Homo sapiens: one gene and its partner. The protein of the gene in region 2 purifies or fractionates together with the protein of the main gene of each other region. This does not show direct contact. Each region holds a gene or a part of one and is shown on either strand. Other genes may lie near its edges. The genes, in order: MNAT1 and PCIF1.

What was found.
Region 1: the proteins of PCIF1 (region 2) and MNAT1 purify together in Homo sapiens (affinity purification with mass spectrometry; one large-scale study listed by BioGRID and IntAct). This does not show direct contact.

Annotation. Positions count from the first base shown.
Region 1 is NC_000014.9:60,811,184-60,815,002, reverse strand, and holds part of MNAT1 (CDK-activating kinase assembly factor MAT1), read right to left. Parts: intron 3,017-3,819; coding exon 2,876-3,016; intron 1-2,875.
Region 2 is NC_000020.11:45,941,063-45,944,881, reverse strand, and holds part of PCIF1 (mRNA (2'-O-methyladenosine-N(6)-)-methyltransferase), read right to left. Parts: coding exon 3,675-3,819; intron 1,786-3,674; coding exon 1,638-1,785; intron 1,543-1,637; coding exon 1,459-1,542; intron 1,217-1,458; coding exon 1,117-1,216; intron 15-1,116; coding exon 1-14. UniProt on the Homo sapiens protein: Cap-specific adenosine methyltransferase that catalyzes formation of N(6),2'-O-dimethyladenosine cap (m6A(m)) by methylating the adenosine at the second transcribed position of capped mRNAs.

The DNA of each region.
Region 1 (3,819 bases), on a different chromosome or scaffold from region 2:
ATAAAACAATTATAATTAGTAACTATATACTAATAATTAGTAACATCAATTTACTAATTCATTTTTAAAGTTTTTAATTTCTCACCAAACAGCTACAAAAATATAAAATACAACATGTCATTTCACTGTTAAAGCCATACCTGCCACTTAATAGTTTCAAGAAAGAACTAATGAAAGTTGCTAGGGAAGGCGTCATTATTCTATTTAATATGCTGGTGTCCTCATTTTTAGAGCCAAATTCACATTCCAGTCATAGAAAATAGAGTTTTATGACAGTGTTTTCTATCTAAGCCTCATGAATGCCCTTACCCTTATTTTTCCTTTAGTTTCTCACCTCCTTATAATTTAAGTAATCTTGCTTTCTCTTTTTTTACTCCTGGTTAACTGACTTAAATGCTTTTTTGGCAAAAGCACAGTAGAAGAACACATATATACATATTTTCCCCAATCATAGGATAATAGCATTATCAACTAGACAAGAAAGTTAAGTGTATTAACACTGCATACACACACACACACACAAACACAAAAGCCTCAGGGAAATAAATTATATGAACATAAAGGGAAAGAGAAGAATGCAAAAAGACTTTCCTGGAGAGGAAGATTTTCCGGTTTGTGAAGTCATCAATATCATACAGGGTTATAAGTATCAAATAATATAGTAATAAATCCATGAAACACTTCATAAACCTTAGTTATTATTACTGTCATTATCTAACAAGGTTGACTACCTAGGAAGCTAATTGCTGGAAAACAATAATTTGCAAAAACCCCGCTATTTCTTTCAAGCAAAAATACACTATTTTTTTATGCAAAAATATAAAATATATTGTCACAAAGTAAACAGTCAATATAAACTTCAGCATGGAGCCAAAATGAGCTCATTATTAGAAAAATAGTATTAATCAGGAGAAAAGTGCTTCAGAAACAATGTATTTTAGTCAGTTAGCTTAAAGCCATATAAACAATCTATCAAGAATATACTGGCTCATCTCAGTTATAATGTCACTCTCTCATCTGAAAATAAAATGGATATTAAACAAAAATCTTTTTAAAAATATAGAAGTAAAATATACTAGAACCTCATTTTAACATCGTTCTTAGAGTTACACAAAGTAAGTAGTGCCATGTCCACAAACAATACTCTTATCTAGGAAATCACTTTAAATCCTTCATAGTAGTTGGCATGATATAAATAAATAGGCATAAGGGTAAGACAAACTACAATATGAAAATGAAAGTCATTTTCATAATTCTTATCACTAAACTCACATTGGGATAGAGACTGAGTATCCCAAATGAATTTATATTATGCCAAATTCTAGAAAAACATAGTTTTCCCCAGTACATACTGTGTGGACTAAAGATGGCCATCACACTCCCATTAGGAGGTGAGATCTATATCCATTCCCTTTGTAACTGAGTGGGCTCTTTTACTAATATGGTGGAATCAGTGCTGTGCCAGTTTCCTAGCCCAAGCCCTAAAATGTTAGCATCTTCTACCTCCTTATTCTTGGGATATTCTCTCTTGTAACCCTGAGCCAACATGTGAGAAGTACAATCACACTGTTACAGAAATTGATGCAGTTTCTGATGTAGTCAGCCCCTTCACTAGATTCACGGTAAGGACTCCCCTCTACTAGACCCACTGCACTCAACTCTATGTGGGAGGGAGCACGTGGGTGAGTCAGCGCAGATCTAGCCAGCTGCTCCAAGCACCAATACAGGAACAAGTTTTGCATGGGGCCCGCAGTCAGACCAGACACAAGCAAGCAAGTGCAGGACCCAGCCATCCGCCCCAGGCACGGACACAGAAGCAAACTCTACGTGGGGCCCACAGCCAGACCAGGCATGTTGCCTCAAGGGGAACATGGCAGTGCCCAGGTGAGGGGGCCCACAACCCCAAAGCCCCAGGGGAAGTGTTACAGTGCTCCTTTAGTTCTGCCATCAGACAACAGTGTGTTGGCAGCTCAGTTGGCTTCTGGCCTTGTCACCTAGGGCAGCTGCTCTCCACCAGGAAGGGCAAAGTGCCAGTGTGACAGCCTTTCTGGGTACCCACACTTGGTGGGTCCCAAGCTCTTGTCTGGCATCCAAGAAGAATGAGGTCACAGGGATGGTTAAAAGATGGCGAAGGTGATAATTTTATTGAGCGATGAAAACAGCTCTTAGCAGAGAGGGGAGCTGGAGAGGGGACAGGAAGAGCAAGTCGTCTTCCCCGAAGTCAGGTTGTCTCTTCCTCTACTTACTGAGTCTGGGGTCTTTATAGGCACAGGATGAGGAGAATGTGCTGAATTAGCTTATGAGTAAGCAAAAAAGGTTGAAGTGAAGACACTACTCAAAGATGGGCATGACAGTGTAGAAAACCAATTAGGAAAGGGTAGATATACATAAAATAGGTGAAGAGTGGGGATCAATCAGAGGAAAGCACACCAAACAGGAGGACAAGTTCTCAATCTGGTCCAAGGATTTAACTTGTAGCTTGGCTTTCAGGTTTTAAACTGTCTTCAACATGGAGATGGGGTTTCTCTGGGTACCCGTCCCTATCTGCCTAGGCATTTGGCTGCCTCCTGTCGCTATCAAAACCACATGGAGAGGTGTCCTGAGAATACATTAGGGAAGCAGAAAAGCCCAAAAGAACCACTTAAATTCCTAACCCACAGAATTGTGAGCATAAAAACATATTGTTCAGTGTGGATGGAGGGCAACCTCTTATTCAGCAATAAATACACTGATATCAATACATAACCAACAAAACTAAAGGTGAACCAGATTACAAACACTGTGGAAAAGCCCTTTAAATGCCATCATCCAGCCTACTAGGAAAGGTAAATCCTGAAGAATGTTTTTTACAATCACAATTAGCATTAATACATACCAGCTCATCTAAAAAAGCCTGCTTATTCTTCCTTTTTAGAATCTGCTGCAGTTGTTCTTCTTTTTGTATAAATAATCTTCTTTGTTCATTTTCCTGTCGTTCCACTTCTAAAGCTTCTTCCAGTTCTTCCTGTTCTCGAGTCTAAAACAAAAATTTATATATGGCGTGGAATAAATTTAGGAGCCAAGAGCAATCATATACCACACTCTAATACTTTCTTTATTGGAAGCATAAAACACACTAGTCACTTATTATTTAATAATGTAGCAATTCCATATTGAAGAAAATAGAATTTACTTTATTTCATGTAGACACGTTACTATTAAATAAAACAACTATTCTGTTATACCATACTAGTGGAATTTTGCTATACTAAGGCCACTGGGAACATATTAAGGGAATTTGAGGGATGAGTTTAGAAAGATGACTAGAGGCAGTAAGGTATACATAAAGATCAATTGGGTTCAAGACTGACAATAGGAGGACTAGTTAGAAGTATATTCAAATAACCCAGATAAGAAATAAGAGCCCTACGCAGCGGCTCACACCTGTAATCCCAGCACTTTGGGAGGCCACGGCGGGTGGATCACAAGGTCAGGAGTTCGAGACCAGCTTGGCCAACATGGTGAAACCCTGTCTCTACTAAAGATACAAAAAATTAGTCAGGCATGGTGGCACATGCCTGTAATCCCAGCTACTCGGGAGGCTGAGGCAGGAGAATCGCTTGAACCCAGGAAATGAAGGTTGCAGTGAGCCAAGTTCACACCATTACACTCCAGCCTGGGCAACAGGGCGAGGTTCCATCTCAAAAAAAAAAAAAAAAAAAAAAGAAAGAATAGAAATAAGAGCCCTAAATAAAGTAATAATCTAATTAGAGTGGGGATGAGGCTTAAAAATGATAAGGAGTGATCATCAACAGAATATAAAGACTGACCAAATATGGA
Region 2 (3,819 bases):
TGCTCCAGGCGATCCTAGAGGACACATTCTGGATCAGGGCGCTAGTGGAGGCCAGAGGGGCTCAGCTGGGCTGGCAGGTAACCGCAGGGCTGTTGGAGTCCAGCAGTCCTTGTTTTGAAACCAGCTCTGCTGCTGACTAGCTGTGTCACTTGGACAAATCCCCTGGCTTCTCTCAATCTTATTCCTCAAGTGTCAAGGGGACACGAGATACCTAACAGGGCAGTTTGAATATTAAATGTGATCATTTCCCTTAAGGGCTTGCCAAATGCCTGGCATACAGTAAGTGTACAATAAATGCCAGTAGCTTTTGTTGGGGTTACACTGCTAGATCCCATGATAATTACCGGAGAAACAGACAAACCAGCACAGTCCCAGCTTATGGTGTTTGCAGTCTATTGGGGAAAGACACAATTACAAAACAGGGTGCTTGGTTGCTGCAGACTTGAGATTTGAGCTTTTAGCTACTTGCAAAGATGACTGTCGGGATTTGTAATTTTGCTGAATCACACGTGTAAAACTGAAGAGTGAGAATGAGTCACTCTGGCTAGTGAGTACACCTACCTTTGTCACTCTCTACGTGTCAAGTACACAGTTACTATCGTGAAGTGCGAAACCTTGTCTCTTGTGAAATATGGTCCTGAAAAGAAAGCCCATTGCTAGTGCTGGTGGAGAGGTTTAAGAAGTGATAGGTTTTGGCCAGAAAACAGAACTGTTTTGGACACATTAAGAGTAGGGAATTGAATCTGATGGTAGCTCTTAACCATGATATGAACACACACACCCAAAAAAAGCAGGCTGTCAATCTGTTTCCAAAAATCTACAAGGGAGATGCTGAACATTCATTAGGCTGAAAGGCAGCTATCTGTGGTGTGTGGCCAAGCATAAGACTCCATTAAGATTGTTAATGGAAATGTTCTGTGGGAGAAAGCCAGGAGCCCAGAGAAACATCTCCACAGTCATGAGTTTGGGGACTGACGAATGTCGAACGTCTGCCATACTGCACAAGAATAGGCCGCTGGGGGAGGCCTTGCCCAGCCTGGACAGGCAGAGTAGGCTTCCTGGAGGAAGTGGCCACAGAGCCCTAAAACTGGCCTTCTCACCCGGGGACCCACTCACCATGTAGTCCTCCTTGGAGGCTGAGTGGTCCTTCCGAAGCCAGCTAAAGGTGTCTTCCACATTCCATTTGACCACCTTCCTACTGTCAGGGGATGCACTCCTGCCAGTCAAGGGGAGGGCAGAAGAAAGGAATGGCTTGGCTCCACCCTCCTCATCCCAATTCCATGGGCTCGCTGGGTATCAACCCCTAGCTTCCATCACAGCCCTTGTTCTGCCTTTGGGAGCTGGCCCCACTTCTGCCACCGAGAGCAATGACAGCCCTGCATGAGACTGGGCAAGATGGCCTATGACCTGCCACTTTAATCACAGACCCATCTCGCCTGGGGCAGAAGACAGGCAAACCTGGACTCGATGAGCCGCCTGGCGGCCTCCGCATATTTAAAGAGCAGGCGCTTGGCTTCCTCCCGGAACTTGATTCGGGATAACCTGCGTTTCAGAGTGGGCAGAGTTAGAGGCCTTCTATACATGACTGGGCACAGAAACCAAATGGCCCAGGGTCATCCCCAGCTGTGGAGCTGTACCTGATAGGAATGTCGTTCATGATTTCACGAAACATGGAAGGTGACACGACTGGTTCACAGTTGCTGGGCAACAGGGGGTCAGATCCTTTGTCTACCACCTTGCGCTCCAGCATCCAGCGGTTGAAAGACTCCCGTGGAGGCTCAATGCCTGCAGGACAGGAGAGCTGCTGAAGGCCTGGATTTAATCAAGCAGTCCCACTTGGAGCTTGGCACGTATAGGAAGCATCGCATTCAGCAGTAAGCAAGACACAGTCCCACTTCAGAAGCTTCTAGGCTGCATTTCCCAAAATATATTCTAAGAATCACTAGTTTTATAGTGTTGATAAGTATCTAGCCAGGCGTAGTGGCTCACATCTGTAATCTCAGCACTTTGGAAGGCTAAGGTGGAAGGACAGCTTGAGCCCATGAGTTCAAGACCGGCCTGGGCAACACAGTAACAGCCTGTCTCTACAAAAAAAAAAAAAAAAAAAAAAAAAAAGAAATTAGCTGGGTGTCCCAGCTCCTCGGGAGGCTGAGGCGGGAGGATCGCTTGAACCCGGGTGGCTGAAGCTGCTGTGAGCTGTGGTCGTGCCACTGCACCCCAACCTGGGTGACAGAGCGAGACCTTGTTTCAAAAGAAAAGAATAAAAAGGCTGGGCGCAGTGGCTCACGCCTGTAATCCCAGCACTTCAGGAGGCCGAGATGGGTGGATCACCTGAGGTCAGGAGTTAGAGACCAGCCTTGCCAACATGGAAAAAACCCATCTCTACTAAAAATACAAAAATTAGCTGGGTGTGGTGGCATGTGCCCATATTCCCAGCTACTAAGGAGGCTGAGGCAGGAGAATCGCTTGAACCTGGGAGGCAGAGGTTGCAGTGAGCCGAGACCGTGCCATTGCACTCCAGCCAGGGCAACAAGAACAAAACTCCATCTTAGAAAAAGAAAAAAAAAAAAAAGTATTACATAATGTAAAAAAAAAAAAAAAAAGGGTGGGCCGGGTGCGGTAGCTCACGCCTGTAATCCCAGCACTTTGGGAGGCCAAGGCGGGTGGATCACAAGGTCAAGAGATCGAGACCATCCTGGCCAACATGGTGAAACCCCATCTCTATTAAAAGTATAAAAATTAGCTGGGCGTGGTGGCAGGCACCTGTAGTCCCAGCTACTCAGGAGGCTGAGGCAGAAGAATCGCTTGAACCCGGGAGGTGGAGGTTGCAGTGAGCCGAGATCACGCCATTGCACTCCAGCCTGGGCGACAGAGCGAGACGCCGTCTCAAGAAAAAAAAAAATTAAAAAAAAAAAAAAAAAGGTGAAAGGCCAGAGGATTCTATATTTGAGCAAGGTTAAATAGGTTTATTACTAATCATAAAAATTAAAAACTAGGCCAGGCATGGTGGCTCACATCTGTAATCCCAGCACTGTGGGAGGCCAAGGCAAGCAGAAGGCTTGAGCCCAGGAGTACAAGACCAGCCTGGGCAACATAGCCAGATCCTGTCTCTTAAAAAAAAATTAGCCAGGTGTGGTGGCTCATGCCTGTAATCCCAGCACTGTGGGAGGCTGAGGCGGGCGCATCACAAGGTCAGGAGTTCAGGACCAGCCTGGCCAACATCGTGACACCCCCATCTCTATTAAAAATACAAAAATGAGCTGGGCATGGTGGTGTACACCTGTAATCCCGCTACTCGGGAGGCTGAGGCAGGAGAATTGCCTGAACCGGGACCCAGGAGGAGGATGATGCAGTGAGCGGAGATGGTGCCACTGCACTCCAGCAGGGGCTACAGAACAAGACTCCATCTCAAAAAAAATAAATAAATAAAATTAAAAACTACAGTTCATTTAATACTTATTCATTTTACTTAATGGTTATCATAGAATCCTAAGGTATAGATACTCTTGTTTTTTTGAAAGAGGGTCTTGCTCTGTCACTCAGGCTGGAGTGCACTGGTGTGATCATGGCTCACCACTGGGCCCCACTCCGCCATCCCCAAACTGGCCTGGCCAAACCTGGCTCATGCTAAAGGTGGGTGGAAATAAAGGAGGCTGCAGCCCAGAGGCAGGTACCCTCTCGCTGCTGGCACAGCTCCCGATAGTGCTGCCGAAGCTTCAGGATGAGCTGAGAGCGGAGCAGTTCCACTTCGGGATGCGGGGGCAGCACCTCTGAAGGCCCCCGGTGCTTGATGACAGCATTGGTCTGGATGTCCAGGTC